Linked DNA regions of Homo sapiens: region 1 is linked to region 2. Evidence: fine-mapped expression QTL. A gene starts in region 2. The other region holds a variant in brackets. All regions are shown on one strand. Distances are from middle to middle. Region 1 has its middle 11 kb from the start of DNAJC12. Region 2 holds the start of SIRT1 (sirtuin 1).

Evidence for each region. PIP is the estimated chance that this variant, and not a neighbour inherited with it, causes the effect. A credible set is the group of variants that fine-mapping cannot tell apart.
Region 1: its variant is the best candidate, but not a certain one, in a credible set for the expression of SIRT1 in whole blood (INTERVAL, PIP 0.88).

Annotation. Positions count from the first base shown.
Region 1 is chr10:67,846,793-67,851,792 of GRCh38, forward strand. No RefSeq gene overlaps it. Among named protein-coding and RNA genes, the nearest start is that of DNAJC12, 11 kb to the left of the region's middle. RefSeq lists enhancers at 2,605-2,654, 2,685-2,744. The variant C/A (reference allele first, on the strand shown) is at 2,990.
Region 2 is chr10:67,881,987-67,886,986 of GRCh38, forward strand. SIRT1 (sirtuin 1) reads left to right here and starts at 2,670. Exons shown (of 9, transcript NM_012238.5): 1 at 2,670-3,165. The coding sequence starts at 2,736. RefSeq lists promoters at 350-2,735, 1,706-2,737, 2,525-2,736, 2,563-2,738, enhancers at 2,186-2,245, 2,266-2,425 and silencers at 2,506-3,045, 2,546-2,730, 3,165-3,459, 3,256-3,375.

The DNA.
Region 1 (5,000 bases), 35 kb before region 2:
AGTCTCTACAAAAAAAAAAAAAAAAAGCACTTGTATCCCAGCTAGCTACTAGGGAGGCTGAGGCAGGAGGATCGCTTGAGTCTGGGGAACTCCAAGCTGCAGTGAGCTGAGATCACGCCACTGCATTCCAGTCTGGGCGACAGAGCAAGACCCTGTCTCAAAAAAAAAAGTAAGCACATTTATGTGACCAAAAAAATACAAAAGCAAAATCAGAAGGCAAATAATATACAAAGAAAAAAATTTCATAATTCTCATAACAGACAAAAGGCTAACTTCCTTAATATACAAGTGCAGACAAATCAATTTTAAAAAGCTTAACAACACAACAGAAAATTAAGCCAAAAATGCCGGGCTTGGTGGCTCACGCCTGTAATCCCAGCACTTTTAGGAGGCCGAGGCAGGCGGATCACCAGGTCAGGAGATGGAGACCATCTTGGCTAACACGGTGAAACCCCGTCTCTACTAAAAATACAAAAAAAAACAAAATTAGCCGGGGGTGGTGGCAGGCGCCTGTAGTACCAGCTACTCGGGAGGCTGAGGCAGGAGAATGGTGTGAACCTGGGAGGCGGAGCTTGCAGTGAGCGGAGATCACGCCACTGCACTCCAGCCTGGGCGACAGAGCGAGACTCCGTCTAGAAAAAAAAAAAAAAAAAAAGAAAGAAAGAAAGAAAATTAAGCCAAAAATACAACTACTTTCAGAAATACAAACGACCAATAAACATACAAATAGTAGTGCAACATCACTAATAATTATGAAACTGCAAATCAATCCAAAGAGGATAAAGTTGTTCACCTCTCAGATTAGCAAAGGTTTGATAATACCCATGCCAGAAAACAGAAATGACGAAGAAAGCATTTCCATACATTGTTGGATGAGAGTGTAATTTGGTACAATTTGGCAATTTGGTGTATTTATCACCTTTTATAAAGCATATCTATACTTGACAGGGCAATTTTGTCTCTACAAATTCAGCTTGTGGATATACACCAAAATATGTTCAAGAGGACCACTGCAGCGTCGTTTGCAACAGGAAAAAATATATATACAACAAAATGTTCATCGGTGGAGTTGAGGAGGGCAGGAGATGAATAAATTATGCTATTTGTAGGATGAACTATTGTATTGCCAGTGAAAAGAGAATAAAGATAGCTTTTTATGTGCAAGTATGGAAAGATGTCTAACGAGTGCTATCAAATGAAAAAACAGGTTTGAGAAGAGTATTACAGTATTATCTCTATTGTGTACTTTTTAATAGTATGTACATTTGCACTTGTAATTTTTTCTAAAGATAACTGCCTTTAAAAAGCAAGCAACAGGCTGGGAGCGGTGGCTCACGCCTATAATCCCAGCACTTTGGAAGGCCGAGGTGGGCAGATCATGAGGTCAGGAGTTCAAGACCAGCCTGGCCAACAGGGTGAAATCCCCGTCTCTACTTAAAAAAAAAAAAAAAAAAAGCAAAAATTAGCGTGGCATGGTGGTGCGTTCCTGTAATCCCAGCTACTCGGGAGACTGAGGCAGGTGAATTTTTTTAACCGGGACCCAGGAGGTGGAGGTGCAGTGAGCCAAGATCGTACCACTGAACTCCAGCCTGGATTACAGACCGAGACTCCGTCTCAAAAAAAAAAAAAAGCAAGCAGCAGGCCGGGCGAAGTGGCTCATGCCTATAATCCCAGAACTCTGGGAGGCTGAGGCGGGTGGATCACCTGATTGAGGTCAGGAGTTCGAGACTAGCCTGGCCAACATGGTGAAACTCCGTCTCTACTACTACTACTAATAATAATTAGCTGGGAGTGGTGGCGCACACCTGTAATCTCAGCTTCTAGGGAGGCTGAGGCAGGAGAATTGCTTGAACCCGGGAGGCGGAGGTTGCAGTGAGCCGAGATTGCGCCATTGCATTCCAGCTTGGGCAACAAGAGCCAAAGTTCATCTCAAAAAAAAAAAAAAAAAGCAAGCAACAGTATTCTTTTAGGGGAGGAACTGGGCAGGTACTCAAAAGAAGATTTTCATTTCCTTTTATACTTTTTTAAACTGTGTGAAGTCGATGTAGTCATCCCATAATTTTTCTTCTGTATGGAAGAATATAGCGTATAGTAGAAATTATGTAGAACTTTTTAACAGAGTTAAAGCTCTGTGGAGGCCGGGCGCGGTGGCTCACGCCTGTAATCCCAGCACTTTGGAAGGCCAAGGCGGGTGGATCACTTGAGGTCAAGAGTTCCAGACCAGCCTGGCCAGAATGGTGAAACCCCATCTCTACTAAAAATACAGAAATTAGCCGGGTGTGGTGGCGGGCGCCTATAGTCCCGGCTACTCGGGTGCCTGAGGCAGGAGAATTGCTTGACCAGGCAGGCGGAGGTTGCAGTGAGCCGAGATCGCGCCACTGCACTCCAGCCTGGGCAACAGAGTGACACTCCGTCAGAAAAAAGAAAGGGGAGGGCAGGGGAGGGCAGGGGAGGGCAGGGAAGGGGAGGGGAGGGGAGGGGAGGGCAGGGAAGGGGAGGGGAGGGGAGAAGAGAAGAGAAGAGAAGAGAAGAGAACCACACACACAAGACAAGAGAAGAGAAGAGAACCACACACACAAGACACGGAGAGTCCGATGCTCAATCCTAGGCCTTGGAGGCCTGTTCCTCCCTGCCGGGAAGCGTCTCTCACCCGAGACTACAACTCCCATAAGGCATCGCGAGCATCGCGAGAACGGCGCCACAGAGGAACCGGAAACAAGCCAGTTACTTTCATACTCAGGGACACCGTCCCCCCCTCCGCCCCCCGCCCTCCGTAAGTGCTATTTTTACATCGAATGCCCTAGTCTGGAAGTAGGTAAACTGAAACTAAGCTCAAATCAAAAGGAGAAAGGCTGGAAAACAAGAGGCTACAAGCTCCAGAAGCTCCGAGCGAGGATGAAAATTAGCCAGCCCACAGGTGGGCTCTGCGCGGCCCTGAAAGTCGCACTCTGACCTGACCCTTTCCGCCTCTCGTTTTTCCTTCCAGCCT[C/A]GCTTCAAAGTTCTGTATTGCAGAATGAAATCGGCGCCTTTCCCCAGCGGTTTTTCCAAATACGAGCAAAGGAGGCACAAAACGCAGGTTCCAGAAACTGTGCCTGCAACCATTCGTCCTTATTTCCCGACACACGGGCCCCTGCTCCCCGCTAAGGCTGGGGTCCTGGACACGAGTTTTGCGCTCTGATAGAAGGGCTTAGATTCCAGATTGACACTGGGCTCTCTAAAGCCTGCTCCTCAATCTACTGATCCGGTCCAGCTTAAGATCCAGTAGAAAGAAAACATAGCCTGCCCGGACCGTAACCTTTTTGTTTCAGACCCTGCATTTGTAAAATAGCCTAATAAAATCTCTCCCTGGCTTACAGAGCAAGACAGCGTCCTGGTCCAAGAACCGGATGAGTCAAAAGGCGTTACTGTTGAGTCAGACATAGAATACATGAATACCTAGAAATTCGTAAATGATTCTCCAAAGGCTGTTGAAATAGCGTTTTCAGGCCGGGCGCGGTGGCTCACACCTGTAATCCCAGCACTTTGGGAGGCCGAGGCGGGCGGATCACCTGAGGTCAGGAGATGGAGACCATCCTGGCTAACACGGTGAAACCTCGTCTCTACTGAAAATACAAAAAATTAGCCGGGCGTGGTGGCGGGGGCCTGTAGTCCCAGCTACTCGGGAGGCTGAGGCAGGAAAATCGCTTGAACCCGGGAGGCGGAGCTTGCAGTGAGCCGGGATCGCACCACTGCCCTCCAGCCTGGGCGACAGAGCAAGACTCTGTCTCAAAAAATGAAAAAAGAAATAGCGTTTTCAAGTTATAATCAGGTGCGATGATGAATGCTATTAATGCCATTTTTAAGAATAGTAAGTGCAGGATGTTGATAGGTTATTCTGGGAGGAAGGGAGATGGGGTATGTGAACTCTGTACTTTCCCCTCAATTTTGCTGTGAAACTAAACTGCTCTAAAAGTAGTTTGTTTGTTTGTTTGTTTTTAAGTAACAATAAGAAGTATAATAGGCCGGGCACGATGGCTCACGCCTGTAATTCCAGCACTTTGGGAGGCCAAGGCATGTGGATCATTTGAGGTCAGGAGTTTCAAGACCAGCCTCACCAACATAGTGAAACCCCGTCTCCACTAAAAATACAAAGATTAGCTGGGCGTGATGGTGGGCACCTGTAATTCCAGCTACTCCGGAGACTGAGGCAGGAGAATCACTTGAACCGGAGAGGCGGAGGTTGCAGTGAGCCAAGCTCGCACCACTGCACTCCAGCCTGGGCAACAAGAGCGAAACTCTCTCAAAAAAAAAAAAATAGACGTATAATAACCACTCATCAGATAAAATTACAACAAATTTAAAGATCTTAATTGGCTTTTATTTGCAATAAATCAGATAACACCTCATTCTGTAAAATAAATTGAGTGTTCTGGGATCTGGGCAGGAGGCTGGCTTTATAAGCCAAAAAGGGGCTGAAGAAAGCAGAAAGAGATAACAAAAAGCAGATTGGTCGTTTCAAAGTTACTTTCCTTGTAAAATTAAAGCACAGCCGACTTTCTTATTATGCCAGCTGAAACTGGCCTGTGTGGGTTTCTCTCCTGATTTCTTGGAAGGTGGAATAAGCAACTTAGTTTTGTTTTGGTGACATGGTAGTTTGGCATGAGTAACTTCATTTTGGTTTTGTCTATTGGGCCTAGTGCAGGAGCTCAGTTCAAACCAATGGCCTATAAATTTTATTTAACACCATTAGTGAGCTCTTATTATGTGCTAGTGACAAAGCTGGGACTTGAACTCTGCTGTGTCTGACTCCAAAGTCCCTGGTGAAGAAAATGTTTAAAATGTTACATCAAATTATCTGGCCAGAATTGTGGCATATTAGAAAATGCTTGTAATCCCAACACTTTGGGAGGCAGGAGGATCGCATGAAGCCAGGAGTTCAAGACCAAACTGGGCAACAAAGTGCGATGTTATCTCTACTAAAAATAAAATACAATAAATTAGCCAGACATGATGGCATGTAC
Region 2 (5,000 bases):
CTTGTTGCCCAGGCTGGAGTGCAATGGCACTGTCTCAGGTCACTGCAACCTCCACCTCCTGAGTTCAAGCGATTCTCCCGTCTCAGCCTCCCGAGTAGCTGGGATTACAGGCGCATGCCACCACTCTGGGCTAATTTTTGTATTTTTAGTGGAGACGGGGTTACATCATACTGGTCAGGCTGGTCTCGAACTCCTGACATCAGGTGATCCGCCCGCCTTGGCCTCCCAAAGTGCTGGGATTTATAGGCGTGAGCCACAGCGCCTAGCCTTAATGTTAGTTCTTAACCAGTGGTAGACCAGAAGTCTAATTGGGATTTTTTGTTTTTGTGTTTGTTGTAATACAATTTCTGTTTCTCATTTATCCTACCTGAAAAGCATACTGCATCTCTGACCTCTCAGCATACTAACAATAATATTGATCACATAGCATTTCTTGTAGTTCATAAACTTCACGTGTCAATAATATACTATAAATATAAATGAATTAATGAACAACAGGATGCTCATAAGCTTACAGACATCTTTTTCTCAAAAAAGCTGGGAATTTTGTTTCTGTTTTATTGGGATACTGACTCTCAACATTTCATATATTGCATTCCACCAACGTAGCTGAGAGTCAATTTATGAAATATTTTGTAGTGTAAGACAGAAAGTGGGGAGGACCAAGTATGTCAACCACTAGGAGTGTGGTGCCTAGTCAGGAATTGGGAGGAGTGTAGCAAGAAAGGAAGGACAACAGGATTTGGTCATTGATTGGTCAGATGGATTTCAGAGGGATTGGTATGAAGGAACGCTTCAAAGATTTTTTTTTTAATTTAAGTTCCAGGATACAGGTGCAGAATGTGTAGGTTTGTTACATACTTATAGGTGAGCCATGGTGGTTTGCTGCACCAATCAACCCCTCATCTAGGTTTTATTTATATTTTTTTTTGAGACGGAGTTTCGCTCTTGCTGCCCAGGCTGGTGTGCAATGGTGCGATCTCGGCTCACCGCAACCTCTGCCTGCTGGGTTCAAGCGATTCTCCTGCCTCAGCCTTCTGAGTAGCTGGGATTACAGGCATGTGCCACCACGCCCGGCTAATTTTGTATTTTTAGTAGAGACGGGGTTTCTCCATGTTGGTCAGGCTGGTCTCGAACTTCCGACTTCAGGTGATCTGTCCGCCTCGGCCTCCCAAAGTGCTGGGATTACAGGCAGCAGCCACCGCGCCCAGCCAGGTTTTAAGTCCCGCATGCATTAGCTATTTGTCCTAATGCTCTCCCTCCCCTTGACCCCCACGCAACCAAAGATGGTTTTAAGGCTTCTAGGACTGGAGATGATTACTTTCAGAAATGAATAGTGGTGACCAGATGAAATAAGACTTTTGGATGTAGATAGGACCTTAGCGATATATTTCCAGCTTTTTATTTTTTATTTTAAGGATGAAGAAACAGCTTTAAGTTGGTTGCCTAAAGTCACGCAGGTAATTGATGCAGTATGGCCAGAACCCATACTAGGCTTAAGGGACAGTGTACCATAAACTCGTAGAGGTCCTTTAAACAGATAGAAACGCTGTGCTCCAGGCAGATGCCATAACAAACACTGGCTCTAGATCTACCATGGGTTATATGGGTCCTTAGTTAAGATTAGATATGGAGTCACAGTGTGCCAGAATTTCAGGGAGAGAGGAAAGTGGAAGGGCTTTCCACTAAGCCTTTTGAACTACTAGGTACCCCTCGTTTTACATCTGGTTATCTCATTTAAATCTATGACGTTTTAAAATACTTATTACCATTTAAGACATGAGAAAAATTAAGTTTAGAAACGGCTAGATAGCTCACGCTAGAAAGGAAGGACTCCAAATTTTAACCAAGGGCAGATGTGCATGGAGGCCAAGTCATTTCCTTCCCATGCTCTCATACTGACCCAACAAACCCATTCTGCACGTGAGAAAACTGAGGCCCGGAGGAGGGAATTCACACACGTTTGAAGCCAAGCTGGGGCCAGAAAGTAGATCGGCTGATCTCCAAACCTCCACGTCAAAGGTCTTCCCAGGAGGACATATGCCTTCAAGGATTTTACAATGTATACCACCCTACAAGTGATGGGAGAGAGGGGAAAAAAGCAACCGACTAAGGAGAAAAGCAAGGAGCAGAAAAAGGAGCAAAAGAGGAGCTGTCAGAACGGTGTGAGGAGAGTGGGAAAGGAGCCGCCTCCTTTTGCCTCTCTTCCTACTTATTAACAAAACAGAACGACTATCCAACGTATTTCAGGGAGCTAAGTCTTAGCCAGCTTCAGCTGTGTTTTAACCCTTAGCTAAATATAGACAAGGCTAAGGCAGGCCAGGTGTACACTTCAGGAAGACGTGGAAATTCCCAGGGCGGACCAAAACTTGAGCTGTTCCGGCGGTAGTGATTTGAGGTCAGTTTGAAAGAGAAGTTGAGAAAGCGGCCGAGGGGCGAATTTGGCTGCACTACACGCTCGCCACAAAGAGGAAGGGCCGCCGGCCGCCGGGGCCGAGTGCGCTTCCAGCCCAGGCGGAGCGGTAGACGCAACAGCCTCCGCCCGCCACGTGACCCGTAGTGTTGTGGTCTGGCCCGCGTGGGTGGCGGGAGCGCCGAGAGGGCGGGGGCGGCGATGGGGCGGGTCACGTGATGGGGTTTAAATCTCCCGCAGCCGGAGCCGCGGGGGCGCCAGTGCCGCGCGTCGAGCGGGAGCAGAGGAGGCGAGGGAGGAGGGCCAGAGAGGCAGTTGGAAGATGGCGGACGAGGCGGCCCTCGCCCTTCAGCCCGGCGGCTCCCCCTCGGCGGCGGGGGCCGACAGGGAGGCCGCGTCGTCCCCCGCCGGGGAGCCGCTCCGCAAGAGGCCGCGGAGAGATGGTCCCGGCCTCGAGCGGAGCCCGGGCGAGCCCGGTGGGGCGGCCCCAGAGCGTGAGGTGCCGGCGGCGGCCAGGGGCTGCCCGGGTGCGGCGGCGGCGGCGCTGTGGCGGGAGGCGGAGGCAGAGGCGGCGGCGGCAGGCGGGGAGCAAGAGGCCCAGGCGACTGCGGCGGCTGGGGAAGGAGACAATGGGCCGGGCCTGCAGGGCCCATCTCGGGAGCCACCGCTGGCCGACAACTTGTACGACGAAGACGACGACGACGAGGGCGAGGAGGAGGAAGAGGCGGCGGCGGCGGCGATTGGGTACCGAGGTGCGCAGGGTGCGGGCGGCCGGAACTGCGCATCTCCTCCTCCCTCTCCCCGGGCTCCTACTGGCCTGAGGTTGAGGGCGGCTGGGGGCTCGGGGCAGGCTCCGCGGCGTTCCCCTCCCCACCCCGGCCCTCCGTTCAGCCGCGCTCCTCCGGGGCTGCGGTTCCTACTGCGCGAGCTGCCAGTGGATTCGCTCTTTTCCTCCGTCCGTGGCCCGCCTGGGCGGCCTTGTTCTTTCCGCAGCAGCCAGGTCGGGAGACTCTCGCAGTCGCTTTAAAATAAGTTTCTCTCCCCCTCTTACTCTTTTAGCATATTGCTTTTGTTAGAGCTTTTTTTTTCTTTTTCTTTATTTTTTATTTTCATTGCTTTTCTCCTCTACCCCCCAGCACACTTAAGTCTGCAACTTTTTGGCTGTCCCGTTGGTCTGCGTTTTCAATTGCTTTTTGCAAACTTGACACCTGTGCAGTTTGCTTTTTTTGGTCTATATTTTTATGACTGAAATTACAATTTTTGAAAGAGGAAAGCTGTTTCTATAGTCACAGCTTGCAAAATTTAAAGAACGTGGCTGTTCCTGAAGACATTACCATTCTGTAATGCAGTTAGGAGTGGGTATGGGAGAGAGAGTACTTTTAGAGCTGTTCATATTACTTTTATTCTAATCTTGCTCTTGTGCGGTAATGGTGTTTGGGCTAAACATGCTTTTTTTGTATGTATGTAGTATTGAGACACAAACTTAACACTTCTAGCATAATGAAGCAGATATGTTGCAGTTGTCATGTTCTTGAAGGTTTCTTTTTTTTTTTTTTTTTTTTTTTGAGACGGAGTCTCGCTCTGTCGCTAGGCTGGAGTGCAGTGGCGCGATCTCGGCTCAGTGCAACCTCCGCCTCCCGCGTTCAACCGATTCTCCTTCAGCCTGCCGAGTAGCTGGGACTACAGACACCCGCCACCACGCCCAGCTAATTTTTGTGTTTTTAGCAGAGACGGGGTTTCACCATGTTGGCCAGGATGGTCTTGATTTCTTGACTTCGTGATCCGTCCGCCTCGGCCGCCCAAAGTGCTGGGATTACAGGCGTGAGCCACCGCGCCCGGTCAGGTTTCTTATTTTTGATCTGAGGAGTTTCTATCCTTGATAGGTGTTCATCTTTATCAATATTTGGGTCAGGCCGGGCGCGGTGGCTCTTTCGTGTAATCCTAGCACTTTGGGAGGCCAAAGCGGGAGGATCTCTTGAGCCTAGGAGTTTCAGGCCAGCCTGGGCAACATAGCGAGACCTCCTCTCTACTAAAAGTAAAAAAAGCGGGACGTGGTGTCGCACACCTTTAGTCCCAGGTACTAGAGTTCGAGGTTGCAGTGAGCTGTGATCCTGCCACTGCACTCCAGGGTGGGCAACAGAGTGAGACCCCGTCTCAAAAAAAAAAAAAAAAAAAAGTAATATGTGTTTTTAGGGACTGATTTAGTAAAGAGACCCTGATTTCAAGCAACACAGTTGAGTACTAATTTATTATTTACCTAATAATAATTGTGTTATTAATACTGTTTATTTAATAGAGGAAACAATGCAGAGGTACTTGTAGTATTGTGTAAGTTTAACGTGCGCATTGCCAAGGTTATATTTGAATGACGTTTTTATGTAAATGTCCATTTATTACACGTTTCACGAACGCTATTGTTTGTGATTGTATGATACATTCTAGCTAGATTATTATCTTTTCTTTTTTTTTTTCCTTTTCTTTTTTTTTAAAAGGTGGAGTTTCGCTCTTGTTACCCAAGCTGGAGTGCAATGGCGTGATCTCGGCTCACCGCAACCTCCGCTTCCCGGGTTCAAGCCATTCTCGTGCC